Homo sapiens: one gene and its partners. The protein of the gene in region 4 interacts with the protein of the main gene of each other region in a biochemical or structural test. Each region holds a gene or a part of one and is shown on either strand. Other genes may lie near its edges.

Region 1 (7,023 bases), on a different chromosome or scaffold from region 4:
TGCTAATTTTGTATTTTTAGTAGAGATGGAGTTTCCCCATGTTGCCCAGGATGGTCTCGATCTCTTGACCTCGTGATGTGGCCACCTCAGCCTCCCAAAGTGCTGGGATTACAGGCGTGAGACACCATACCCAGCCCTGATTTTTTTTTTTTTTTTAACTGCAAATGTGTAGTCATGAAGAACATAGTGATTACTAATGCAGTTTGGCCACTGTCTTGATTTGTGCTACAGGGCCATTAGTTTAATGCACCACTGTTTTTTGCACCATCAGTGCAAATGTCAACTGGTGTTCACATCAGTTACATAGAAAATGAGAACTTGGTAATATTCTGAAATAGTTTCAACCTGGTAGACCTCCTGAACACTTGGAAGAGCTACCTCAAGAGTCAACAGACCACACTCTGAGAACCACTACTCTGGATGCACATATAAAATACAGGAGGAAAGAGATACATCTTCAGAGAAAAGACTTGGGTCATAGGAAGATAAGAATGGCAAGGAGCCTTGTTTTTTTTCCCTGTACATTCTTTGTACCTTATAAATTTGGTACACTTTGTATATATTACTTTTCTCTGAAAAAATTAACTTAAAAAAAGACACTTAAACTGACATGAAAACTAAGTAAAAATTAAGCATATTAGTAGAAATATAAGTACACAAGTAAATACAAACAAATATAAGCATACTACTTATAAATATAAAGGTATAGACTACAGAAATAATTTTTGAGAGCTAAAATGTTTCTGTTTAAGCAGTACAACTAGGAGATTAGGAGAGTTGCATAGGAAACCACTGTTTTTCATTGTAAGTCTTTTGAAACTGACTTTTAAAACCGTGTACAGATATTAATTGGTTGAAAATTTAAAATATTCAAAATATTACTTTGAAAAAACACACATTAAGTTAGATTGAATAAGTAAATAAAGCAAATATCCATACACAGGTGAGAAACTGGCTATGAAATATACCAAGATGTAACAGTAACTGCCTGGGTAAAAAAAAAAAAAAAAAAAAAAAAAAAAAGAAAGTACTGATGAGTTTTCAATCACATACAAAAATTCTGTTTCATAATTTTTTAATTTTTTTTTTCTTGAGATGGAGTCTTGCTCTACTGCCCAGGCTGGAGTACAGTGGCATGATCTCGGCTCACTGCAACCTCCACCTCCCAGGTTCAAGCGATTCTCCTGCTCCAGCCACCCAAGTAGCTGGGATTACAGGCATGCACCACCCCACTTGGCTACTTTTTTTTTTTTGCATTTTTCAGTTGAGACAGGGTTTCATCAGGTTGGCCAGGATGATCTTGAACTCCTGGCCTCAAGGGATCCATATGCCTCGGCCTCCCGAAGTGCTGGGATTATAGGTATGAGCTACCGCACCCAGCCCAATTTTTTGAACTCATTTTAAAGTTTCTTAAAAAGCAACAGTTTTCTTCAGATTAGAATGTTTGATGACTTAGTTAAAAATAGTTAAAAGTATAAACTTCAGGTTTTTAATAAACAGTTAAGTGGCTAAACATACACACACAATTTTTTCTCATTTCATATGATCACAATTAAGAACATAACTCATTATGTATTTGAAAAAGAAAAGAAGAAAAAAATTGCTTTATGACAATAAGTTGCTGAGTCTTACGTGATTACTTCATAAAATCTTCAAAGAAATATAAACCTACTATCAAAAATCTAATTTAAATTTAGTTTCCTAGCGATGTCCTGATGCATGAAAAAAAGATTATTCCTGTATATAAATAACACAACAGCAAATTGGATTGCTCACTAAAAGGAACCAGGGTTCCATGGAAAACGGCTCATTCCAAGACTGACAAAGGAAAGAAATAAGATGTGCTTGCAACATCTTGCTGTGCCAGAAAGACAGGAAATACTTAAAAAAAAAAAAAAAAAAAAAAAAGGCCGGGGCACGGCATCTCATGCCTGTAATCCCAGCACTTTGGGAGGCTGAGGCAGGTGGATCACGAGGTCACAAGGTCAGGAGTTCAAGACCAGCCTGTCCAAGATGGTGAAACCCCGTCTCTACTAAAAATACAAAAATTAGCCGGGCATGGTGGCAGGCGCCTATAATCCCAGCTATTTGGGAGGCTGAGGCAGAGAATTGCTTGAACCCGGGAGGCAGAGGTTGCAGTGAGCCAAGATCGCGCCACTGCACTCCAGCCTGGGAGACAAGAGTGAGACTCCGTCAAAAAAAAAAAACAAGAGGTTATGTTAAAAAGACACAGGAGCCCACTTGGAAAGGCTCCTAATGGACAAATCTGGGACAATTTGAACATCAAAATAAAGGTTATAATGGGTTATTTAACCCACTGAATAAAACAGGAAACACACAATTCTGTATTAATCAGATAAAAGAATGTCTCTTCCTTATAAAAGAATGTCCATTAGTGAAGAAAATGGATGAGTTACAAAATAAACACTTTCCAACCATTAGAGTAAAGATCAGTAAAGATCAGCATAGGCAAGAAACATCAATGGATGCTACATGGGCCTTGGGGGATGTGGGGAGTGATGAGGAACAGGATGATCTGATGAGGAGCAGAGTAGCTGCACTATCTCAAAGTTATCCCCACAGATTGCTTATTAGGTGCACTGTTCCACATTACAGGAGACTAAAGAGATATGACAACTAAATGCATTTTGTGATCCTGAACTGGGTCCTATGAGGAAAATGCTGTAAAGGGATAAATGCTATTATCAGGACAATTCGACAAAACTGGAAAATGAGCTGTAGATTAATATTATCAAAGTTTAATTTTCTGAATTTTGTAACTGGTGCAGTGATAACGCAAAAGAATACAATACACAGTGAATATTTAGAAACAAATGGGCATAATGCAATGTAATGGGCATAATGTAAGCAATTTACTTTTAAATGATTCAAGAGAGAATAAGGGGCCAGGCGCAAAGGCTCACCCCAGCACTTTGGGAGGCTGAAGTAGGCTGATCACTTAAAGTCATGGGTTTGAGACCAGCCTGGCCAAGAGGGTGAAACCTCGTCTCTAACTAAAATACAAAAATTAGCTGGACGTGGTGGCGGGCACCTATAATCTCAGCTACTCAGGAGGCTGAGGTAGGAGAATCGCTTGAACCTGGGAGATGGAGGTTACAGTGAGCCGAGATCACACTGCTGCACTCCAGCCTGGGCAACACAGCGAGACTCCACCTCAAAAAAAAAAAAAAAAAAAAAAGAGAGAGAAAATAAGAAAGCAAGAGTGACAACATTAAAAATTGGTGAATCTGAATAATGAGTATTCAAGAGTTCTCAGTACTATTTTTTAAATCTTTCGGTAAGTTTGAAATTATGTCAAAATAAAAATGTAAGTAGCCAGGCGTGGTGGCTCACGCCTGTAATCCCAGCACTTTGGGAGGCCAAGGCGGGAGGATTACTTGAGGTCAGGAGTTCGAGACCAGCCTGGCCAACATAGCGAAACCCCATCTCTACCAAAAATATAAAAAATAACCTGAGCGTGGTAGCGTGCACCTCTAATCCCAGCTACCTGGGAGGGTGAGTCAGGAAAATCACTTGAAGCTGGAAGGTGGAGGTGACAATGAGCCAAGATGGGGCCACTGCACTCCAGCCTGGGCCACAGAGTGAGACTCCATTAAAAAAAAAAAAAAAAAAAAAAAATTTAAGTAACAACAAATTGGGATGTCAAAAGATAGTAAAATAAGTAATTTATTCGAGTGCCCTATAGTACATATGAATAAGGGAAATGACTACAACATTGATTCAGACTTGACACCTAGCCATATATAGAATTTCTTAAATTTTCTATTTGGTAGAAAAGGAAAAATATTTTTTAAGAATCCAATCACATACAAACTAAACTAAGATGCTAATCGTGTATGCCCTCAGGAAAACACAAAAATCTTCTCCATGTTAACACAATCCACACTGCCAAACTCTCCTTTCCACCAGCAAGCCATAAGCCCCTTCAGGCAGGTGTTAAGAGCCTGCCCTTTGTTTTAACTCAAGCACTGGCACAGTGCCTGAAATACAACACTCCTGTTTGTTGAATAAATACTGAACATTTACAAATAGAAACGAAATACTGTATTTTTATCAAAATGAAAAGAAGCGTGGAAGGGAACAGACACTTAAATATGGTACTTTCACAAATTTTGAGATGGAGTCTCACTCTGTTACTCAGGTTGGAGTGCAGTGGTGCAATCTCAGCTCACTGCAACCTCCACCTCCTGGGTTCAAGCAATTCTCCTGTCTCAGCCTCCCAAGCAGCTGGGATTACAGGCACCCACCACCACGCCCAGCTAATTTTTGTATTTACAGTTATATTTTTTTTATTTTTGTGTTTTTAGTAGAGACAAGGTTTCACCATGTTGGCCAGGCTGGTCTCGAACTCCTGATGTCAGGTGATCCACTCGCCTTGGCCTCCCAAAGTTCTGGGATTACAGGTGTGAGCCACTATACCTGGCCACTTTTACTAATTATTTTAAAACATTTTTATTTACAATTGAACATTTTCTTTTTTTTGAGATGGAATCTTGCTCTGTCACCCAGACTGAAGGGCAGTGGCGCAATCTTGGCTCACTGCAACCTCTGCCTCCTGGGTTCAAGTCATTCTCCTGCCTCAACCTCCCAAGTAGCTGGGATTACAAGCACCCGCCACCATGCCCGGCTACTTTTTGTATTTTTTAGTAGAGACAGGGTTTTGCCACGTTGGGCAGGCTGGTCTCAAACTCCTGACCTCAGGTGATCCGCCTGCCTCAGCCTCCCAAAGTGCTAGGATTACTACAGGTGTGCACCACCATGTCCAGCCTAAACATGAATGAACGTTTTCAAAAATATATTATTTTATTTTATTTCATTTACTTATTTATTTTGAGATAGGGTCTGGCTTTGTCACCGAGGCTGGAATGCAGTGGCACAATCTCGGCTCATTGCAACCTCTGCCTCCCGGGCTCAAGCCATCCTCTCACCTCAGCCTCCCGAGTAGCTGGGACTACAGGCATGTGCCATTATGCCTGTCTAATTTTTGTATTTTTTTGGTACAGCCAGAATTTCGTCACATTGCCCAGCCTAGTCTCAAACTCCTGGGCTCAAGCAATCCACCTTCCTCAGCCTCCCAAGGTGCTATGATTACAGGCATGAGCCACTGGGCCCAGCCAAAAAAATATATTTTAAAATATGAACAATTTTCAAACCTCACAAAAGCAGAGAACAATATTATTAATACCCATGTACCCATCACCCCAACCCAACAATTATCCAGATTGTGCCAGACCTGCTTCATCTATCTTATCTCCCTCCACCACATTTTTTGGTTTTTATCTGGTATCTGTTTAAAATAACAGACATTGCTGGGCACGGTGGCCCACGTCTGTAATCCCAGCACTTTGGGAGGCCGAGACGGGCGAATCACCTGAGATCACGAGTTCAAGACCAGCCTGGCTAACATGGTGAAAAACCGTTTCTACTAAAAATACAAAAAGTTAGCAGGCGTGGTGGCGCGCTCCTGTAATCCCAGCTACTCAGGAGACTGACGCAGAAGAATTGCTTGAACCCGGGAGGTGGAGGCTTCAGTGAGCTGAGATCACACCACTGCACTCCAGCTTGGGCAACGAGGGAAACTCCATCTCAAAATAAAATAAAATAAAATAAAATACCAGACATTTGCAAGTTTTCTCCCTCATTCCTCAGTCTCTATCACTAATAAAAAGTGGTCATTTTCTTACATAAACATAATGCCATTATCATCCCTAACAAAGTTACAATAACTCCTTGATATCATCTAATACCCATCCATATTCAGATTTCCCCCAATGTTTCAAAAATGACTTTCTACAATTGGTTTGAGTCAGGGTTTAAACAACACCAACATATTGTATTTGGTTACTACACATAAAATAATTTTAATCTGTCTACATCATCTGACAGCAAATATGAAAAGCTTAACAGACAAACCAAATAATTAATTTACATTTGTAGATTCTCTAGAATCAAACCTCACCTAATGCATTTGCCGCCCCTGCTATCTGTAGCAGTCTTCCTCCAAATCGTCACTATGGCTGATTTTTTCTAGTCATTGAAGTCACAGGTCAAATTACCACCTCTAAAAAGGCCCTCCCTAACCACTCAATCTACAGTAAAACCACTTCCATCCATGCCGTATCACATGGTCCTATTTTCCTCATGGCACTTACCACTACCTGAAACCATTCTGTTTATTATGTTCCCACACACAGAACAGAATGTCAGCTCCATGAAGGCAGAGTGCCTTCACTGAAGACCAGTGACTGTGCCTAGAACATGAGACATTCAATAAATGTATCTACGTAATAATGCAGTACCGCTCTTTAAAATGTAAGCTCAGCTAAGTATTTGGAGGCTTTTTTGTTGTTTTGTTTTTTTTCAAGATGGAGTCTTGCTCTGTCACCCAGGCTGGAGTGCAGATCTCAGCTCAGTGGAACCTCCACCTCCCGGGTTCAAGCAATTCTGCCTTACCCTCTTGAGCAGCCAGGATTACAGGCGCATGCCACCACCATGCCCAGCTAATTTTTGTATTTTTTTTTTAGTACAGACGGGGTTTCACCATGTTGGCCTGGCTGCTCTCGAACCCGACCTCATGATCTACCCGCCTCGGCTTCCCAAAGTGCTGGGATTACAGGTATGAGCAAGCGCACCCAGCCTCAGCTAAGTATTTGTCTTTAAATATTTGTAATTCACTCCTCATGTAATGATATAAATTGAGTACCTGTAGAAACCTGGGCCAGCTGTTACCAAGAATCTGTAGGATGTAGGAAAGAAACAAACAGAGGTATAAGACATTCAAATGTAATTGTGGACTTTTACTGAACAATAATTACAGGTTTCTGAAAGAAAAACAAATTATTCCAGATGATTTTTAAAATGTTACCAGGAGTAATAAAAAATTTCATTTTTAGTACCATCTGAAAGCTATTAAAGCTTCAGTAATTAATATCTACAATGGGACAACAATAGCAATAATATGTGGAACAACAATCATAGTTTTTTTGTTTGTTTGTTTTGAGA
Region 2 (7,782 bases), on a different chromosome or scaffold from region 4:
ACTCACCATTACTGCTCCCATGGCCAAAACCAGCAGTCCCACAATCCCTGTGAAAGGGATGAGGTAATAGCCCAAGGGGAAGGTATTGTCTGGAACCAGAAGCACCCGAGCCCTGGGAAAAGGATGACCAGTCTCAGCAGGGCGAGAAAGGCAAAGGGAGAAAAAAAGAGGGACAAAGTAACTGGCTCTGGACAAAGCCCATAGGTGGGGACAGGAATGGGAAGAAAGTCAAAGAGGCAGGGAAGGAAGGACAGGAGGCTGAATGGTTCGGGTAATGAGGAGGCCTGGGCTCCAGGTTGGCATGGAACTGCTTGCTGAAGGAAGAATGGGAAGGAGGCACATGTCCTACCCCTTCTCGTAGACAAAGAGGGCACGCAGGTACTCGGAGCTTCTCTCCCCAATAAATACAGACGGGATCCAGATCTGCTGCTGGATTTCCTCTGCAGGGATCAAGGTGTTACTCTGGGGACTCACAACCTTCTACTCAAATCCTCTGGGAACCCTGGCATCTTGCACTTTGGCCCCACCCCACCTAAAGGATTGGCTTCTTTTCCTGAGGCCTTCAGCCTTCCCACCATCTCTGGGTCCTACTGAAAGCCCAGCTGTATAGATTCCCCCAGCCTTACCACTATTCCACACCATGTTCAGAAGTTCATTGGAATTCACATTGTGTACTACAGCGGCACCATATCCAGCCTTCTGGGCATTTAGGACCTAGGGAGACAAGGCAGAGGACAAGGAGCCATCATGGGCCTTACCTGTCTTCATTCCTGGTGCCTTTTTTTTACCCTCAGCTGCCCAGCTCCCCTTCCTCATTCAGCAACCTTGAGGTCAAAGTTGCAGTCGAATCTTCGAAGCAGCGCAATAAAGACTGACCCATTGACCGGGGCTGGGGGTGGTGGGGCAATGGGGCTGCAGGCATTGTCTGGGTGAGCCTCCACAAGGAACCCCTGAAGGATGGAAGCAAACAACAGTGAGATTTCTCCTTTCTAGATTCTGCTCTCTACAGGGGCCACCAAACACACCAGCCCACATGCTGCACATCCTCTATCCTCACTTCCTCCTCCTTCCTGGGGTCTGAGTGAGCATCCCACCATCACAACCTTCTCTTAGCCTCTTGAAAAGGCAATGACATAAAACATCCCTTCACCAAACTCTCCCATCATCCCTCTCGCTGTCCCAGATGGGCTAATCTGTACCCTATACTGCAAGCTAATGCAATTATTTTTGCCTTCTAATATTCCAATTGTAATTCAATTCTCAAACCACCCATGTCACTTTCTCTCAAGTTCTGTTTCACAGTCCCCTCTCCAGCACATACTCATACAGACACACTCCCCTCCCTTCAGTTTTCTTTTTGTTTTTCTTTTTTTTGAGATGGAGTCTCGTTTTGTCACCCAGGCTGGAGTGCAGTGGCGCGATCTCGGCTCACTGCAACCTCCACCTTCCGGTTTCAAGTGATTCTCCTGCCTCAGCCTCCCAAGTAGTTGGGACTACATGCGTGCACCATCACGCCCAGCTAATTTTTGCCATTTTAGTAGAGATAGGGTTTCTCCATGTTGGCCAGGCTGGTCTTGAACTGGGATTACAGATGTGAGCCACCGCGCCCGGCCTCTTCAATTTTCTAATTACCCATCTCACAAACAACTCGACTGCTACTAAGGCCCAACTGAGTTCTTGCTATGTGGCAGTCTTTGGGATGAAATACTACCAAAATTGCGTATCTACTTTGATCTTCACAATAACCCTAGGAAAACTTCTAATATCCCATTTTACAGTAAAACAAACTAAGGCTCAGAGAGATTAACTTGCCCAAAGTCATATAAGCAATAACTAGCACCTGAGACCTTCCTGATAAGGACCGTTGATCCTGCCTTCTGTCTTCGTCCACTTTCAGTCTCCCTGATAACCTCGGAGTTCCAGGGGTGGACACTCTGTCTTCTCCCTCTAGATTCTGGGTTCTACACTAGACGTGCTCAGTTCCTAACTTCATTTTCCTACCTCCAGTTTCACCCAGGACAAACCTCCCCAACCCCAGCCTAGGATGGAGGATCTTGCGAAATACTAAAAAAAGAAAAAAGACAGAAAAGGAAGGAAGGGAGGGAAGGAGGAAAAGAAAAGAAAGAAAATCACCTGGAGGCCCTCCTGGCTCAAGGTAGCCCCAAACAGAGCTGGAAGGTCTGCAAAGTCCATGCTGGCATTGTGGTCCGAGGTCTGCGGACAAAAAAGGCGATGTTCCCCTTCAGCCTGCAACCCTTCCTTTCAGCGCCCTTTCCCCATCCGTCCCTCAGACTCACCGCTCGAATGAGCCCCCGGGTCGGGGCCGCTCCCCACAGCACAGCGGCCACAACCACAGGAAGCGGGAAGGCTGCAGGGTGCATGGCAGCGGGAGGAAAGAGGCTGAGGAGGCCGCGCGTCCTGGTAGCAAGGAGCAGAAGCGGAGTTCTGCGCCCTCCCTGCCCCTCCTTTAGGATCCCAGGGGTCCAACCACCCCCAGGTCCCACTTCCCAGCTACATGGGGGCGCCGGGGAAGGAACACCAACTCAAAGAATGAGATATCCAACCCGTTTAGTGGAGCTGGGTGGGAGGCACTAAATGTATCCTTTTCTGGTACGGGGATAAAACGCGGAAAGGGGACGGAGCCTAACACAGGTGACAGAAAAACTTCGGGAAGGGTGGCGGAGCTCAAGGAGGTGGGACTTCCTGCTAGGTGGGCCGTGTTCCCAGCCTCTGGAAAAGGGCTTCCGGTAGAGAAAATCAGGCCGCTTTCAGCATTGGATGCTTGAGATGAAGGACTTCCGGTCCTAAAAGGCCGGTTAAAAAAAGGTTAGCGATGGAGGGACTGCCTGTGGAGATGGAAGGGGCACTGGTGGCCCAGAAGACGACCTAATAAAAGTGCCCGGAAACCCGGAGCCTCCTAGTTTACAAACCTCTCCTCCCTCTGGCCTCCGCCGCTCCTTCAAATCTCGCGAGAGTGCTCACCACCTCTCCCGTCCCCTCGCAGCTGAATAGTTGCTGTGTCTATCGCGAGAGCGCTCCAACTTGGCGAGCCGTACTCACTCGATCTCGCGAGACCTTCAAACAAACTCTTCTCTATTTTCCCGCGATTCTAATTCGGTGAAAACAGCGCCTTTCCTCTGGTTTCCAAATCAGTTACGCCCCTTCTCGCACGCTTCCATCAAGCTCCTCCTTCAGCTCCGCCTTACTCCCGGCCGCCTTTGCGCTGCGCGCCTGCGCCCGCGCCGGCTTCCAGCGGGTGTCGGACCTGAGAGCTGGAGGGGCGTGCGCGCGCCCTCGCTCTGTTGCGCGCGCGGTGTCACCTTGGGCGCGAGCGGGGCCGCGCGCGCACGGGACCCGGAGCCGAGGGCCATTGAGTGGCGATGGCGGCGACGGCGAGTGCCGGGGCCGGCGGGATAGACGGGAAGCCCCGTACCTCCCCTAAGTCCGTCAAGTTCCTGTTTGGGGGCCTGGCCGGGTAAGCTCAGGCCCCAGGGATGGGAAAAGAGGAGGAAGGGAAGGGCAAAAGGAACCGGGCCCGGTTCATCTCTGGGTCTGTTGCAGTGAACTGTGCCGGCACGGGGTCAGCGCGATCTCCAGCGTATTGCGAGTTCCCCGATGGGCTGCTAGGGCCCCATTGCAGGACCCTTATGGACTGCATGCAGGGTCGTTGCACAACCCCCGCCGGGCCAGCTGAGTTTCCCAGCGCATTGCTAAGCTCGGCCGGGCGGCAGGGGGTTCCAGGCCATTAAATGGCTCCTGCAGGACTACCTGGAGTCCTAAATCTTGGATGCCCCTTCCTCCCCTCCCTGTGTCGGACTGCGTGCAGCCCCAGGTCACTGCTTGACTGTCATGAAGCTGCTTGGAGCACTTTCATTGCATGGCCCCTACTGGACAACTAGACTTTTCAGACCCGTTGCACTTGGTGTACATATAGACTCTTATACACATGCTCACCAGCATCCTGATTCTTGAATCGCATGGCAGGCCCTGACCTTTGTAACCTCTTGCTGCCAGGCTCCAGTGGGCACTGGTAGATCTGGAATGCCTGGCCCTTCACTCCACCTCTGTCTTCCCCCAGGATGGGAGCTACAGTTTTTGTCCAGCCCCTGGACCTGGTGAAGAACCGGATGCAGTTGAGCGGGGAAGGGGCCAAGACTCGAGAGTACAAAACCAGCTTCCATGCCCTCACCAGTATCCTGAAGGCAGAAGGCCTGAGGGGCATTTACACTGGGTATTGGGGCCTCAGGATGGAGGGTAGACTGTGGGTTGGCAGCTCTAGACCTTGGCCTGATATGCTGACCCCTCTGCTCCTCAGGCTGTCGGCTGGCCTGCTGCGTCAGGCCACCTACACCACTACCCGCCTTGGCATCTATACCGTGCTGTTTGAGCGCCTGACTGGGGCTGATGGTACTCCCCCTGGCTTTCTGCTGAAGGCTGTGATTGGCATGACCGCAGGTGCCACTGGTGCCTTTGTGGGAACACCAGCCGAAGTGGCTCTTATCCGCATGACTGCCGATGGCCGGTGAGTTCCAAGTCTGAACCTAACCCCAGCCCCATTCCCTCGAATCTAGAATGAAAGGACCAGTTTTTTATCCCGGATCTGGAGCAGAGTGTTTACCTGTTCTGGCCTTCCTTTCTTTGCACCTGTGGGCAATCCTGATCTTGACCTCTTTCTGCCTTCCCACCAGGCTTCCAGCTGACCAGCGCCGTGGCTACAAAAATGTGTTTAACGCCCTGATTCGAATCACCCGGGAAGAGGGTGTCCTCACACTGTGGCGGGTGAGTGGAGGGGCTGGAGACTTGGGGGCTGTGAGGTCTGGTTTTAGGGGTTTCTGACTCTTCCCCGCTCCCCTCCCTCCAGGGCTGCATCCCTACCATGGCTCGGGCCGTCGTCGTCAATGCTGCCCAGCTCGCCTCCTACTCCCAATCCAAGCAGTTCTTACTGGACTCAGGTGAGATCCAGAGCTGGGCCCTTAGTTCCCAGCCTGGCCTGAGCCACCTCTGAGCTGACTGCCACCCCCGCCTCACCTCCCCCAGGCTACTTCTCTGACAACATCTTGTGCCACTTCTGTGCCAGCATGATCAGCGGTCTTGTCACCACTGCTGCCTCCATGCCTGTGGACATTGCCAAGACCCGGTGAGTGTGCAGCCTGGGCCTGGAGGTGGGTGGGAGGGTGCCCTTTCGGTCTCTCATGCCCCTGCGTCCTCTCCTGCAGAATCCAGAACATGCGGATGATTGATGGGAAGCCGGAATACAAGAACGGGCTGGTGAGGAAGCCATTCTGGGGGCCTGGGAGGGGGTGTCGGATCCCCTGGGAAAGGTGTGAAGGCAGCTGGGTGAGGGGGATGGGGACCTAGAGTCCTAGCCCCAGCGCCCTGCCTGTCTGTGTCTAGGACGTGCTGTTCAAAGTTGTCCGCTACGAGGGCTTCTTCAGCCTGTGGAAGGGCTTCACGCCGTACTATGCCCGCCTGGGCCCCCACACCGTCCTCACCTTCATCTTCTTGGAGCAGATGAACAAGGCCTACAAGCGTCTCTTCCTCAGTGGCTGAAGCGGCCGGGGGCTCCCACTCGCCTGCTGCGCCTATAGCCACTGCGCCCTGGGGGCCTGGGCTCTGCTGCCCTGGACCCCTCTATTTATTTCCCTTCCACAGTGTGGTTTCTTCCTCTGCGGTAAAGGACTTGGTCTGTTCTACCCCCTGCTCCAGCTTGCCCTGCTCGTCCTGATCCTGTGATTTCTCTGTCCTTGGCTATTCTTGCAGGGAGCTGGAAAACTTCTGAGGATTTCTGGCCTCCCCCTGGGTTTTAGTTTCAGGGCACACAGGACAGCAGAAGATCCCCTTTGTCAGTGGGGAAACCAAGGCAGAGCTGAGGGGACAGGGAGGAGCAGAAGCCATCAAGATGGTCAAAGGGCCTGCAGAGGGAGATGTGGCCCTTCCTCCCCCTCATTGAGGACTTAATAAATTGGATTGATGACACCAGCCCCAAATCTGGAGAGTCTGGGGGGTGGCTAGGAGAGGGGAGGAGACTGGACAAAGAAGCTGGAGAATAGGAACTGGAGTTTTTAAGAAAAATTGTTAAAGAAAAAGCAGCCGCTGGTTTTTTGCAAATGCTGTATAAATCTGTCATGCCACAGCAGCTGACAGGGCCAGAAAAACTCAAATCCCAGGCCCGGTGTGTTTCCTCCAGCCACTCGCCCAAGAATGCCACCGATGCCCAGATCATCTCACATAATCCCCAGGAAAAGCCCCTCGGTCTGATGACTGCTTCTGCAGCCTAAAGAGGGAGGAAATAAAGAGACTTAGAGAGGAAGTCAGACCACTGTGGGCTGGAGGCAGTGCAGGTGGAAGGCCAGGGCTTAAGTGGGTGGGCACTGGAAGCTTGAGGAAAGGGGAATGCTGGCCAGAGACCTGATCTGGGTCCTTGGCTGGGGAGAGTGAGAACCTTGTCCATTTCTTTAGAAGATGTGTGGTTCCCAGGCCAGCCTTCAAGGAGCCTTAAAACCTCTTGGGGCACAAGAGAGTTTGGGAAGGTCAAACTGAGGAGTGCTTGCCAGGCTAGGGGACAGGCAGGCAGCAGGTGGGAGCTGTCCCTTTGGCAGAGCCTCATCAGCAGAAGAGGTGGAGCTCAGCATCCTGGCGCCCCTGCTGCTGCCTCTGTGTACACTGTCCTGCGCCTTGGTGGCTATTGTGAGATGCCTGAAGCCTAGACCTTGTCCTTAAGGAGTTCCTGGTCCAGAAGACAAGATTATACAGGAGCAGTTGGGAAACTGAGTGTAGCAATAGTGTTGCAGGGTAACTTGGAGCACCTGGCCTCGCCTGGGAGTAGTGACTTGCAGACTGAGTGGTTAGACTGGCTGGGGATGGGGCAAGGATAGCACACCTGGCTGGACTGAGGGCAAAGGCTTAGAGTAAAACACTGTTGGGGAGCAGGTGATCTATAGGCTTGTGATAGTTGGAGCACAGACTGTGAGGTATCTCCCTTGAGATGAAGCTGGACTGTCAGATGGGGTCAGTGCTTGGCACTCCCTGACTGCCAAGCTCAGGAGTTGGTCCTCCACCTGGGGAGAGATTCGGTCAGACTTTCAGGTTTGGGAGATCTTCAGGACCATCTGGAGGGGGATGGGGGTCTCCATAGTCCCATTCTCTGGGCCCCAAGCCTTGGATTGGGCTGGAGACAAGGCAGGAGAGGAAGCCACACCAGTGTGTTTAGAGAATGGCAGGATTTATGAGAAAAGAAATGGGGTTCCATTTGCCTGTGTCCCAGCCTGAGAGCAGGAAACCCAAGACTATTCAGTCACACCAAGATGGTGCATGCTGCAGGGTCCACCCCTTGCTGTCCTGCTGACCTGGGCAGTGAGGAGAGCTGCACTTCTGAGGCTGCAGGTGCAAAGCAGGCACCCACCTTTGCCCCTAGTACTGCAGGCTGCTGCCAGGTAGGTCCCAGCAGTTGTCATTAAACTCCAGGAAGGCAATTTTTGAGCTGGATCTGATGCCTGGGGTGGCCTGGTGGGTGGCCAGCCCTGGAGGAGAGGAGGCACCCCAGGCAGGGGAAGTGTAGGCTGTAACTGGAGGTCTATTGGATAAGTAGTTGTGACCAGGGTAGGGCATTTGGAGCCTTGTGAATTCTCATGACAGGTGCCCCAGCCACTCTTCACCAAAAGAAGCCAAGTTGTTTTGAGACAGGCTCTCACTCTGTCACCCAGGCTGGAGTACAGTGGCACCTTCAGGGCTCACTGCAGCCTCCATCTCCCAGGCTCAGGTGATCCTCCCTCCTCAGCCACC
Region 3 (7,023 bases), on a different chromosome or scaffold from region 4:
ATACAAAAGTTAGCTGGGCATGGTGGTGGGCGCCTGTAGTTCCCAGCTACTCAGGAGGCTGAGGCAGAGGAACCGCTTGAACCCGGGAGGCAGAGGTTGCAGTGAGCCGAGATTGTGCCACTGCACTCCAGCCTGGGTGACGAAGTGAGACTCTGTCTCAAAAAAAAAAAAACCCAAAAAAATAGGGCCCAGCGTGGTGGCTCACGCCTATAATCCCAGCACTTTGGGAGGCTGAGGCAGGTGGATCATGAGGTCAGGAGTTCAAGACCAGCCTGTCCAAGATGGTGAAACCCCGTGTCTATTAAAAATACAACAAAATTAGCCGGGCGTGGTGGCCGGTGCCTGTAATCCCAGCTACTCGGGAGGCTGAGGCAGGAGAATTGCTTGAACCTGGGCAGCAGAGATTGCAGTGAGCCGAGATTGCACCACTGCACCCCAGCCTGGGCAACAGTGAGACTCTGTCTCAAAAAAAAAAAAAAAACGCCAGGCACGGTGGCTCACCCCTGTAATCCCAGCAGTTTGGGAGGCGGGTGGATTGCCTGGGGTCAGGAGTTTGAGACCAGCTTGGCCAACATGGTGAAACCCCGTTTCTACTAAAAATACAAAAATTAGCTGGGCGTGGTGGCAGGTGCCTGTAAATCCCAGCTACTCTGGAGGCTGAGGCAGGAGAATTGCTTGAACCCGGGAGGCGGAGGTTGCAGTGAGCCAAGATCACACCATTGCACTCCAGCCTGGGTGACAAGAGTGAGACTTAGTCTCAAAAAAAAAAAAAAAAGCCATAAACTAATTAACCCTGCAAGCTCAGCTTGTCCTTTAAATACTGTTTACCTTCTAGATATAGTCCAGTCATGTATGGCTGTTGAAATTACTGTTAAAAAAGTATTCGCTTTTTTTTTTTTGAGACAGAGTATTGCTGTGTTGCCCAGGCTGGAGTGCAGTGGCGCTGTCTCGGCTAACTGCAAGCTCTGCCTCCTGGGGTCACACCATTCTCCTGCCTCAGCCTCCCAAGTAGCTGGAACTACAGGTGCCTGCCACCACGCCCAGCTAATTTTTTTGTATTTTTAGTAGAGACGGGGTTTTACTGTGTTAGCCAGGATGGTCTTGATCTCCTGACCTCGTGATCCGCCTGCCTCGGCCTCCCAAAGTGCTGGGATTACAGGCATGAGCCACCCGTGCCCGGCCAAGTATTCACTTTTTATCATAGATGGCCTACCGATTAAGTCATATGTTATTGTTGATAATGTGATATTGTTGATAATGTGATATGTGCATATATCCCTGAGTAAACTGAATGTAGAAATATGTAGTACTCTTTGGTTTTACAACTATAGAGATGAATGTATATTTAAAATAAACTTGTGGCCTGATGCAGTGGCTCACACCTGTGATCTCAGTGCTTTGCGAGGCTGAGGCAGGAGGATTGCTTGAGGCCAGCTAGTAAGACCTGGTCTCTACAAAAAAAAAAGTAGCCAGGCGTGGTGGTGCATGCCTGTAGTCTTAGCTACTTAGGAATCTGAGGCAGGAGGATTGCTTGAGCCCAGAAGTTTGAGGCTGCAGTAAGCTATAATTAGGCCACTGTAGTCCAGCCTGGACAACAGAGCAAGACCCTGTCTCTCAAAATAAGAATTAAAAATAATAAACCTGCATTGAGAAATGGTATTGCCTGTATTAGGGATCTCAAATATTTTGGTCTTAGGACACTTTTACACTCTTAAAAATTGAGAATCCTGGCCTGTAATCTCAGTGTTTTGGCAGTCTGAGGTGGGAGGATCACTTGAGCCCAGCAATTTGAGACTAGCCTAGGCAATATGGTGAGACCTCATCTCTACAAAAAAAAACTACAAAGAAAAAAAAAATTAGCTGAGTGTGATGGTGCGTGCCTGTAGTCCCAGCTACTTGGAGGTTGAGGCAGGAGGATGGCTTGAGTCCAAGAGGCAGAAGTTGCAGGGGACTGAGATTGCACTGCTGTACTCCAGCCTGGGTGAAAAAGCTGTCTCAAAAAAAAAAAAAAAAAAAAAAAGAGAATCCCAAGAACTTTATGTTTGTACTGTCGATATTTACTCTATTAGAAATTAAAACAATTTTTAAAAAATACTCACGTAAAATAACAATGATAAACCCATTACAAGTTAACAAATAATTTAGGAAAATAACTATTTTCCAAAACAAAATTAAGAGAAGCATGGCATTGCAATAGAGGCCTGTAATGAATGGCTATTTAATAGAAGACAGCTGGAGTCTTTTGTCTGCTTCTGTATTTAACCTGTTGGAATATATTATTTTGGTTGAAATAAACGAAGAAGGCTGGGTGTGGTGGCTCATGCCTGTAATTCCAGCACTTTGGGAGGTGGAGGTGGGACGATTGCCTGAGGGCTGGATTTCTAGACCTGCCTGGGCAACATAGTGAGACCCTGTCTATAAAAAAATCCACGGCCAGGCGCGGTGGCTCACGCCTGTAATCCCAGCACTTTGGGAGGCTGAGGCGGATGGATCACCTGAGGTCAGGAGTTCAAGACCAGCCTGGCCAACGTGGTGAAACCCCGTTTCTACTAAAAATACAAAAATTACCTGCGTGTGGTGGTATGTGCCTGTAGGCCCAGCTACTTGGGAGGCTGAGGCAGGAGAATCACTTGAACTCGGGAGGTGGAGGTTGCAGTGAGCCAAGATAGCACCACTGCACTCCAGCCTGGGTGACAGAGTCAGACTCCGTCTCAAAAAAAAAAAAAAAAAAAAAACAACAACAACAAAAAACACTAAAACTAAAAATTAGCAAGGCATGGTGGTGCACACCTGCAGTCTGTAGTTACTTGGGAGGATCTCACTTGAGCCCAGTATTTCAAGGCTGCAGTGAGCTATGATCATGCCAGTGCACTCCAGCTTGGGTGACAGAGTGAGACACCCCATCTCTTAAGAAAAAAAGAAAAGAAAAGGAAATACACAAAAATCTAGGCTTACACAGATATGTAGTTGGTAAAGGAAGGAATATTATTTAAATAGCCTTTTCAGGTAATTTAATCTTTTTTTTTTTTTTTTTTTTTTTCCTGAGGCAAGGTCTCTCTCTGTTGCCCAGGCTGGAGTGCAGTGGTGCTATCTCGGCTCACTGCAGCCTCTGCCTCCTGGGCTCAAGGGATTCTCATACCTCAGCCTCCCGAGTAGTTGGGACTACAGGCGCATGCCACCATGGCTGGCTAATTTTTTTGGTATTTTTTTTGTAGAGGTGGAGTTTTGCTATGTTGCCCGTACTGGTCGTGAACTCCTGAGGTCAAGCGGTCCACTCTCTGCAGCCTTCCAGAGTGTTAGGATTACAGGCGTGAGCCACTGCTCCCAGCCTGAATCTTCTTGTGATACTATACAAAAACTCAGCAAGTGCTAGTTTCTTTGTTGGAGTATGGAATCTGAAATTGTTTATGAACCTGTTGGTCTTTCGTGAACTTCAAATGGATCTTTTACCCATGCCTGATTTGTAACATGCATTAGTGACTTGAAATAGTATTCACTGTGTTTTGCAGATCTCCAAATATTGACACATTTCATTATACAGTACTCCTTTCCCCTCAGAAAATCCTCACATTCATTAATATCACTGCCCATCTCATCATAAAAGTCTTTAATTAATGGGAAGCTGTCAGGCTCATAAATATCAAATGTTTTCCAAAATTCTAATTTTTACATAAAACCCAGCCTTTTCATTAGCAAGAGATACTGTCAATTGTTTTCTTTGAAGTAGCAAGCTCATTTTTTTTCCCCAGAAAATGTCAGGTAGCTAAGTCTGAATAGCCATAGTTTATCATTTGTTCTTTCAGAAGGTAAAAATGGTGTTCCATGAAAAAAAGCAGCTGGTTTAACTTGCCGCTCTTCACTTAAGTGCTTTTTCTCCAGACAACATCTGCCGGTATGCAGAAGTGCTTTGTGCGTACTGCCTATTTTGTCACGCAATATATTAAAAAACTGTACACAGGCTCAAGACTTAATAAAATGAATAATTTTTACTGCTGCATCAAGAACATTCTTAAGTGAAACCGGTACTCCAACCCCAATTTGGGTGGTGATGAAGAATACAATTCAGCGCTTCTTACAGCTTTGCTCGATCCCTCCTAAGGCTTCAGCAGTGTCTACACACCATTGCTTTTACACCATTGGTACAAATGTTGACATGGTGCAAAAAGCAAGTAACATCTTAGTGTCATTACGAAAATAGTTTTGATCTCACAGATGCCCTGAAAGAGGGACATCCAGGTTTCTGCCCACCACATTGTGAAAATTGATGATTCTAGATAATACAAAATGGCTTCTGTTACTGTTCTGGTGGTTTAAAAACAACAAAAAACCTCATTTAGTTCTCTACCTAGAAGAGTGAATTGCAACTCTCATCTTGTGCTTTTACCTGTGATTTTAAAAATTGTAATCTTGCCTTTGAAACAAAAATATGCCAATTCATAATAAAGTCTACATGAGAGTACATGTTTGGATTTATATTTCTGTGCTTCTTTCTTTTATATAACATACCATTTCATATTTGTGGGCCCAGAGTAAAGAGCTCATTCTGTTACAGACACTGAATAGCCTTGTTTTTGTCAGTAGTCAGCTCTGTTTTAAAACAATTGCTTGGGTCCTGCTGGCTCAACTTGCAGTTGTCCTAGTCCTGAGTCTTGTCTTAGCCAAAGACTGTTGTTGGAAAGCCCACACAAAGGCCTTGTGTATAGGATGCCCTACTATTAAAGGAGCATGTTCTAGTCTCAGTGGATTAAATTTGCTTTGGTGTGCATTCCCTTACCAAATTTCTCACTACTTTGTTTGGCTGGTTATTTCAGTGAAAAATCATTTTAACGTGAAGGCAGATTTCTTCTAATTATTACATAGTCCTAGTGGTGACGGTTATTGGAGTAAAATAATTTTTTTTTTTTCTGGTAGGATGTGATGGAGCTGCTTGAAGAAGATCTCACATGCCCTATTTGTTGTAGTCTGTTTGATGATCCACGGGTTTTGCCTTGCTCCCACAACTTCTGCAAAAAATGCTTAGAAGGTATCTTAGAAGGGAGTGTGCGGAATTCCTTGTGGAGACCAGCTCCATTCAAGTGTCCTACATGCCGTAAGGAAACTTCAGCTACTGGAATTAATAGCCTGCAGGTTAATTACTCCCTGAAGGGTATTGTGGAAAAGTATAACAAGATCAAGATCTCTCCCAAAATGCCAGTATGCAAAGGACACTTGGGGCAGCCTCTCAACATTTTCTGCCTGACTGATATGCAGCTGATTTGTGGGATCTGTGCTACTCGTGGGGAGCACACCAAACATGTCTTCTGTTCTATTGAAGATGCCTATGCTCAGGAAAGGGATGCCTTTGAGTCCCTCTTCCAGAGCTTTGAGACCTGGCGTCGGGGAGATGCTCTTTCTCGCTTGGATACCTTGGAAACTAGTAAGAGGAAATCCCTACAGTTACTGACTAAAGATTCAGATAAAGTGAAGGAATTTTTTGAGAAGTTACAACACACACTGGATCAAAAGAAGAATGAAATTCTGTCTGACTTTGAGACCATGAAACTTGCTGTTATGCAAGCATATGACCCAGAGATCAACAAACTCAACACCATCTTGCAGGAGCAACGGATGGCCTTTAACATTGCTGAGGCTTTCAAAGATGTGTCAGAACCCATTGTATTTCTGCAACAGATGCAGGAGTTTAGAGAGAAAATCAAAGTAATCAAGGAAACTCCTTTACCTCCCTCTAATTTGCCTGCAAGCCCTTTAATGAAGAACTTTGATACCAGTCAGTGGGAAGACATAAAACTAGTCGATGTGGATAAACTTTCTTTGCCTCAAGACACTGGCACATTCATTAGCAAGATTCCCTGGAGCTTTTATAAGTTATTTTTGCTAATCCTTCTGCTTGGCCTTGTCATTGTCTTTGGTCCTACCATGTTCCTAGAATGGTCATTATTTGATGACCTGGCAACTTGGAAAGGCTGTCTTTCAAACTTCAGTTCCTATCTGACTAAAACAGCCGATTTCATAGAACAATCAGTTTTTTACTGGGAACAGGTGACAGATGGGTTTTTCATTTTCAATGAAAGATTCAAGAATTTTACTTTGGTGGTACTGAACAATGTGGCAGAATTTGTGTGCAAATATAAACTATTATAAAATCTGTTTCAAGTATGCAGTTTTCTTTTGTTAGAAATTGTTAGAGAATAGAGAGTGGTAATTCAGATTTGGTCAACGATTCTAGTCACATATTTTCCTCCAAAAGTATTCCTTCCAAAAATAATCTATACATGTTCAAATTAGGTAGCATAAAGATAAAAGTGAAATTTAGTAGTATAGGCCTGAACCTTTTTTTGTTTAAAAGAGTGCTTTTGAAATAAGCATCCACCCCAAATGTTGGTTGTATTTATGCTGTGATAAAAATAGGTGAGAGATCATATGATCTAATATTGTATTGATGGAAGTATAGGTAGTATAGTAGTGATTGTTCTTCAAGCATGCAGTAAAGATCACTTTTTTTTTTTTTTTTTTTTTTGAGATGGAGTCTTGCTCTGTCGCCCAGGCTGGAGTGCAGTGATGCAATCTTGGCTCACTGCAGCCTCTACCTCCCAGGTTCAAGTGATTATCCTGCCTTAGCCTCCTGAGTAGCTGGGATTACAGGCGCGTGCCACCACGCCCAGCTAATTTTTTGTATTTTTAGTTGAGACAGGGTTTCACTGTCCCTTAAGACCATCCTGTTAGCCAAGATGGTCTTGATCTCCTGACCTCGTGATCCGCCTGCCTCGGCCTCCCAAAGTGCTGGGATTACAGGTGTGAGCCACCGTGCCCAGCCAAAGACTGCTCTTAAAGCACCTTTTTGACAGTGAACATGGTCTAAAAAAGGGAAGATATTGTAGAAGATTTCACACACACACGCGTGTGTGGGAGACAACTAAAGGTATTGAAGGTACTAATTAATTAGATTTCCAAAATTTTCTACAGAGAGTTAATTATCACCAAAATGTGAATGGTACATACAAAACCTGGCATTTTCTTGTGATA
Region 4 (7,023 bases):
GGCCAAGGCTGGCAGATCACCTGAGTCCCGGAGTTCGAGACCAGCCTGACTGACCACCATGGAGAAACCCGGTCTCTACTAAAAATACAAAATTAGCTGAGCGTGGTGGTGCATGCCTGTAATCCCAGCTTCTCGGGAGACTGAGGCAGGAGAATCGCTTGAACCCGGGAGGCAGAGGTTGCAATGAGCTGAGATTGTGCCACTGCACTCCAGCCTGGGCAACAAGAGCAAAACTGTCTCAGAAAAAAAAAATTGCAATATTACCAGAATTCCTTTGGGACTGTCTCCTGAAATTTGAGGTCAGTCTTAACTTTCCTCTAGAACTCAGCTCAAGAAGGCTGGGTGAGGTGGCTCATGCCTATAATCCCAGCACTTTGGGAGGCTGAGGCAGGAGGACTGCTTGAAGCCAGGAGTTCAAGACCAACCTGGGCAACACAATGAGACCCCATCTCTACAAAAAATAAAAATTAGCCAGGTGTGGTGGCACACACCTGTAGTCCCAGCTACTCGGGAGGCTGAGGTGGAAGGCCTGCTAGAACCCAGGAGGTCAAGGCTGCAATGAGCTATGATTGTGCCCCTGGGCGACAGAGTGAGACCCCATCTCAAAAAAAAAAAAAAGGCACCTAGCTCAAGAACCTCCCTCATACAGTCATACAGGCCAGGCACGACGGCTCATGCCTGTAATCCCAGCACTTTGAGAAGCCAAGGCAGGCGGATCACCTGAGGTCTGAAGTTCGAGACCAGCCTGGCTAGAAACCCCATCTCTACTAAAAATAGGAAAATTAGCTGGGTATGGTGGCATGCGCCTGTAATCCCAGCTACTGGGTCAAGCAGGAGAACTGCCTGACCTGGGAAGCAGAAGCTGCAGTGAGCCAAGATCATGTCACCGCACTCCAGCCTGGGTGAGAGAGTGAGATTCCATCTCAAACAAAACAAAACAAAAAAACTCCAGGTGGGGTGGCTCACACATGTAAGCCCAGCACTTTGGGAGGCCAAGACAGCCAGATCACCTGAGGTCAGGAGTGTGAGACCAGCCTGGTCAACATGGTGAAATCCAGTCTCTACTAAAAATACAAAAAAAATTAGCCGGGTGTGGTGGCGCATGCCTGTAATTCCAGCCATTCTGGAGGCTGAGGCCTGAGAATCACTTGAAGCCAGGAGGCGGAGGCTGCAGTGAGCCGAGATAAAGCCACTGCACTCCAGGCTGGGTGACAGAGACTCTGACTCAAAACAAAACAAAAACAAAAAAGAACCTCCCTCATTCAAATACCCTCAGAATCCCATAGCATTTACACTTTGCCCCTCCCATTTTTATCTATCCTTTGTCCTGTATCTCCAACCAATTAAGCCTTTTGGGGCTGTGGTCAACATGTTCGGTAACTGTTAATAATGTATTCACTGGGAAATAAGAGTATATAGTCTTGGCTGGGCATTGTGGCTCACACTTGTAATCTTATCACTTTGGGAGACCAGCCTGGCCAACATCATAAAACCCTGTCTCTACTAACAATATAAAAAATTGGCTGGGCGGTGGGGCGCGCCTGTAATCCCAGCTACTTGGTAGGCTGAGGCAGGAGAACCGCTTGACCTGGGAGGTGGTGGCTGCAGTGAGCTTGGATCATGCTACTGGACTCCAGCCAGGGTGACACAGTGAGATTCCATCTGGGAAAAAAAAAAAAAAAAAGTCCAGGCATGCCAGGCATGGTGGCTCACCATTTAAGCCAAGCACTTTGGGAGGCCCAGGCAGGCAGATCATCTGAGGCCGCGAGTTTAAGACCAGCCTGGCCAATACAATGAAACCCTGTCTCTACTAAAACTACAAAAATTAGCTGGGTATTGTGGCCGGACAGGGTGGTTCACACCTGTAATCCCAGCACTTTGGGAGGCCAAGGCAGGCAGATCACGAGGTCAGGAGATCGAGACCATCCTGACTAACACGGTGAAACCCCGTCTCTACTAAAAAAAAAATACAAAAAATTAGCTGGGAGTGGTCGTGGACGCCTGTAGTCCCAGCTACTCAGGAGGCTGAGGCAGGAGAATGGCATGAACCTGAGAGGCGGAGCTTGCAGTGAGCTGAGATAGCGCCACTGCACTCCAGCCTAGGTGACAGAGCGAGACTCCGTCTCAAAAAAGAAAATTAGCTGGGCATGGTGGCGCATGCCTGTAATCCCGGGATCCCAGCCATTCCAGAGGCTGAGGTATTGGTTGAACCTGGGAGGCGGAGGTTGCAGTGAGCTGAGATCGCGCCACTGCACTCCAGCCTGGGTGACAAAGCGAGACTCCGTCTCAAAAAAAAAAATTAGCTGGGCGTGGTGGCGCATGCCTGTAATCCCGGGATCCCAGCCATTCCAGAGGCTGAGGTATTGGTTGAACCTGGGAGGCGGAGGTTGCAGTGAGCTGAGATGGAGCCACTGCACTCCAGGCTGGGTGATAGAGCCGAGACTCTGTCACAAAAACAAAACAAAACAACAACAAAAAGGAATCTCTCTCATGCAGATACCCTTTAGAATCCCATAGCATTTACTCTTTGCCCCCACCATTTTTATCTATCCTTTGTCTGCCCTGTATCTCTAACCAGTTAAGCCTTTTGGGGCTATAGTCAATATTTTCAATAACTGTCAATAATGTATTCACGGGAAATAAGAGTATATAGTCTTGGCTGGGCACGGTGGCTCACGCCTGTAATCCCAGCACTTTGGGAGGCCAAGGCAGTTGGATCACTTGAGGTCAGGGGTTCGAGACCAGCCTGGCCAACATGGTAAAACCCTGTCTCTACTAACAATACAAAATATTAGCTGGGCGTGGTGGGGTGCGCCTGTAATACCAGCTACTCAGGAGGCTGAGGCACGAGAGTCGCTTGAACCCGGGAGGCAGAGGCTGTGGTGAGTTGAGATCGTGCCACCATACTCCAGCCTGGACAACAGAGCAAGACTCTGTCTCCCAAAAAAAAAAAAAAAAAAACCCAGGTGCAGTGGCTCATGCCTGCAATCCCAGCACTTTGGGAGGCCGAGGCGGCAGATCACAAGGTCAGGAGCTCGAGACCAGCCTGGCCAATACGGTAAAAACCCGTCTCTACTAAAAATACAAAAACAAAAACAAAAAAAAACAAAAAAAAACATTAGCCATGCATGCTGGCACATGCCTGTAATCCCAGCTACTCAGGAGGCTGAGACAGGAGAATTGCTTGAACCCGGGAGGCGGAGGTTGCGGTGAGCCGAGATGGCGCATTGCACTCCAGCCTGGGCGACAGAGGGAGACTCCGTCTAAAAAAAAAAAAAAAAAAAAAGGTGTATAGTCTTTAAGAAGGGGTGACAGGCCAAGCATGGTGGCTCACGTCTGTAATCCCAGCACTTCAGGTGGCCAAGGCCGGAGGATCACTTCAGTCCAGGAGTTCGAGACCAGCCTGGGCAACATGGTGAAACCCCGTCTCTACAAAAAATTACATAAATTAGCTGGGCATGGTGGCAGACGCCTTTAGTCCCTGCTACTTGGAAGGCTGAGGTAGGAGGATCATCTAAGCCTGGGGAGTTCAAGGCTGCAGTGAACTGTGATCACGCCACTGCATTCTAGCTTTGGTGACAGTGAGACTCTGTTTCAAAAATAAATAAATAAAAAGGGAAGAAGCTAGGGAGCCCAGATGTGTCTAAACCTACGCCCAATGGACAGAGCTCAAAGTCTTTGTAACACTGTATACAAGGAATTCACCCCAAACATATTACCTGCACAGACTTTGATTTTTTTTAACCCAATCTATAGGCTTTCCTTGCTCAACCCATTCCAGAAACCATAAGAAATACTATTTAAATATTACATAAAACTGTAACTTACATAACTTTCAAACACACTTTTGAAAAAATAAAATAAAAATAAAAACTTTAAAAACCACTTTTTTACTATTTGGAGACAGTGTGTTGCTCTGTCACCCAGGCTGGAGTGCAGTGGCACAATCACCGCTCACTGCAGCCTCGACCTCCCAGACTCAAACGATTCTCCTGCCTCAGCCTCCCCAAGTGCTGCAATTACCGATGTGAGCCACCACGCCTGCCTCTAGTCTTAGAAACAACTGTTCAAATTCTCGTTACATTCATTTTTGGTAGAAAATTTTACCTTTTTATTAAAATCAAAAGCGAGAAATTTTAAAAGAAAAACACTAAAAACGGGAAACAAACTTAAAAGTTTTAAAAATAAAACATTCAAAGCCAGTATATATTTTTTGTCTTTACTGTCTGTGTCCATTTATTCTTTAGATAAATTATCTTACACATCTGATACAGTTAAGTCTCAAAGTATTCTTTTTTTTTTTTTTTTTTTGAGATGGAGTCTCGCTCTGTCGCCAGGCTGCAGTGCAGTGGTGCCATCTCGCTCACTGCAACCTCCACCTCCCCGGTTCAAGCAATTCTCCTGCCTCAGCCTCCCAAGTAGCTGGGACTACAGGCACTCACCACCATGCCCGGCTAATTTTTGTATTTTTAGTAGAGACGGGGTTTCATCATGTTGGCCAGGATGGTCTCGATCTCCTGACCTCGTGATCCACCTGCCTAGGCCTCCCAAAGTGCTGGGATTACAGGCGTGAGCCACCACGCCTGGCTGTGTTCTTCTTATATAGTTAATAAATAGCCAGGAATCATTTTCTTTTTTCATTTATGAGACAGGGTCTCGCTGATGCCCAGGCTAAAGTGCGGTCACATGATCACAATTCACTGCAGCCTTGACCTCATGGGCTCAAGCATCCTCCAGCCTCGGCCTCCCGAGTAGCTGCCACTATAGGCACATACCACCAGGCCTGGCTGATTTTTTTTAAATGTTAGTAGTAACAAACTCTCACTATGTTGCCCAGGCTGGTCTTGAACTCCTGGCCTCAATCGAGTCTCAGCCTCCTAAAATGCTAGATTACAGGCATAAGCCACCCCACCTGGCCATAAACACTCTTTTAAAGAGTTTTGTCAGGCCAGCCTGGCCAACATGGTGAAACCCCCGTCTCTACTAAAAATAAAAACATTAACCGGGCATGGTAGTAGGCGCCTGTAATCCAAGCTACTCGGGAGGCTGAGGCAGAATGGCTTGCAACCAGGAGGTGGAGGTTGCAGTGAGCTGAGATCGTGCCACTGCACTCCAGCCTGGGTGACTGAGCAAGACTCTGTATCAAAAAAAAAAGTTTTGTCTACATAGTTCTCAACATATGGCAGTCTGGGGACATTTTTAGTTGATGCATCCAGCAAGAAGAGATAGTGGGGACATGCGCTGGGGCTCTGCAGTGCTACCTGCATATACTGGTAGAGGTCAGGGATGTTGCTAAACATCCCACAATGCACAGGAGAGCCACTCAACAAAGAACTATCTGCCCAAAATGTCAGTAGTGCCAAGGTTAAAAAATCCATGGTCTACAGAAATCAAAAGACTTACTTTTAGAGATTTACAACTACTTCTATTACAGAATAATCTAGATCAAGCTAGATCAAGTACATTAAAATTTTAAAGGAAAATAGACACAAAAATCTATTTAAATGATGAGGGAAAACTTAATGTACTATATAGTAATTTTCACGAAACCAATTTGTTTATGCCATAGATTTAAACACGCCCTATGAGACTAGAAAATGTTGGCCAGGTGCAGTAGCTCACTCCTGTAATCCCAGCAATTTGGGAAGTCGAGGCGGGTGGATCACCTGAGGTCGGGAGTTCAAGACCAGCCTGACCAACATGGAGAAACCTCGCCTCTACTTAAAATACAAAATTAGCCAGCCATGGTGGTGCATGCCTATAATCCCAGCTACTCAGGAGGCCGAGGCAGGAGAATTGCTTGAATCCAGGAGGCGGAGGTTGGGGTGAGCCAAGATCGCGCCATTGCACTCCAGCCTGGGCAACAAAAGCAAAACTCCGTCTCAAAAAAAAAAAAAAAAAAAAAAAAAAAAAAAAAAAAAAAAGAAAAGAAAAGAAAAGAAAAGAAAATGTTACCAAAGTGCAATTACAACATGAAAAACCAACAGGTGCCATATAGCATAAGACCAACAAGAGAGTGCACTGATTTAAGGGTGTTTTATTTCATTAAGTTTCAAATTTTAAAATATTTGGTATATTGAAATTCAAGTAAATCTGGCTGGGTGTGGTGGCTCATGCCTGTAACCCCAGCACTTTGGGAGGTTGAGGCAGGCGGATCACTTGAAGTTAGGAGTTCAAGACCAGCCTGGCCAACATGGTGAAACGTCGTCTCTACTAAAAATACAAAAATTAGCTGGGCGTGGTGGCGGGCACCTGTAATCCCAGCTACTCAGGAGGCTAAGGCGGCAGAATCTCTAGAACCTGGGAGGCAGAGGTTGTGGTGAGCTGAGATCGCACCACTGCACTCCAGTCTGGGCGAGACAGCGAGATTCCTTCTTAAAAGAAAAAAAAAAAAACATGAAAGAAAGAAATTCAAGTACATCTTAAAGTTAATTATAGGTAACACTTATTTCAATGAGTTTAAACTAGCAAATTAAACTGTGTTTAAATCCTTTAACCAGTAATACAAACCAGGCTCGATTTTTTAAATTAATTAAAAGCATGCCTATCCTTAGCAAGTCATGACAGCGTGGGACAATATGAACACAAGCAGACCTAGATCCAAATCCCAGGCTCTGTGATTGCAGACAAATAATTTAACTTCTCTAAATCTCTATTTTCTCATCTAGGAAATAGGACATCTAAAGAACTGTGCTTAAGAATTAGCAATAACGTAAAAACAAATGATACTAAGAACAACTAGCCATTCTACAAATGGCAGCTAGTTATTAACAGCAGCAATAACTAATAGTAAATAATAAAACTTATGAATAAAACATTGATTATGGGTTTATATCCTCACAATTAATAATTTACTTATGTAATCCTACTCATAAAATAACTAATTATAAAATGTACTTTACATCAATATTCCATGCCTAACAACTTTGGAATATTATTTAAAACTACTTAAAATTCACACTCATATTTAAAAACAAACATCTAAAACAAAGAAAATAAATATTAATTAATAAAAAGAAACAT

Evidence for each region.
Region 1: the proteins of UBE2K (region 4) and RNF111 form a complex in vitro, tested with the Homo sapiens proteins (one study listed by BioGRID).
Region 2: the proteins of UBE2K (region 4) and RNF167 form a complex in vitro, tested with the Homo sapiens proteins (one study listed by BioGRID).
Region 3: the proteins of UBE2K (region 4) and TRIM13 form a complex in vitro, tested with the Homo sapiens proteins (one study listed by BioGRID).

The regions. Positions count from the first base shown.
Region 1 is NC_000015.10:58,990,650-58,997,672, reverse strand, and holds part of RNF111 (E3 ubiquitin-protein ligase Arkadia), read right to left. Parts: intron 6,758-7,023; exon of another isoform or gene 6,725-6,757; intron 1-6,724. UniProt on the Homo sapiens protein: E3 ubiquitin-protein ligase. Required for mesoderm patterning during embryonic development. Acts as an enhancer of the transcriptional responses of the SMAD2/SMAD3 effectors, which are activated downstream of BMP.
Region 2 is NC_000017.11:4,935,509-4,943,290, reverse strand, and holds the start of RNF167 (E3 ubiquitin-protein ligase RNF167 isoform a precursor), read right to left. Parts: upstream 3,024-7,782; 5' UTR 2,931-3,023; exon of another isoform or gene 2,805-2,930; 5' UTR 2,382-2,804; coding exon 2,298-2,381; intron 2,215-2,297; coding exon 2,134-2,214; intron 951-2,133; coding exon 825-950; intron 715-824; coding exon 627-714; intron 441-626; coding exon 350-440; intron 113-349; coding exon 7-112; intron 1-6. Other genes in the region: SLC25A11 (mitochondrial 2-oxoglutarate/malate carrier protein), read left to right, coding at 3,381-3,475, 4,079-4,231, 4,316-4,522, 4,689-4,779, 4,862-4,952, 5,038-5,137, 5,217-5,268, 5,395-5,550.
Region 3 is NC_000013.11:50,007,024-50,014,046, forward strand, and holds part of TRIM13 (E3 ubiquitin-protein ligase TRIM13), read left to right. Parts: intron 1-4,911; coding exon of another isoform or gene 4,912-4,917; coding exon 4,918-6,141; 3' UTR 6,142-7,023. UniProt on the Homo sapiens protein: Endoplasmic reticulum (ER) membrane anchored E3 ligase involved in the retrotranslocation and turnover of membrane and secretory proteins from the ER through a set of processes named ER-associated degradation (ERAD).
Region 4 is NC_000004.12:39,701,133-39,708,155, reverse strand, and holds part of UBE2K (ubiquitin-conjugating enzyme E2 K), read right to left. Parts: intron 1-7,023. UniProt on the Homo sapiens protein: Accepts ubiquitin from the E1 complex and catalyzes its covalent attachment to other proteins. In vitro, in the presence or in the absence of BRCA1-BARD1 E3 ubiquitin-protein ligase complex, catalyzes the synthesis of 'Lys-48'-linked polyubiquitin chains.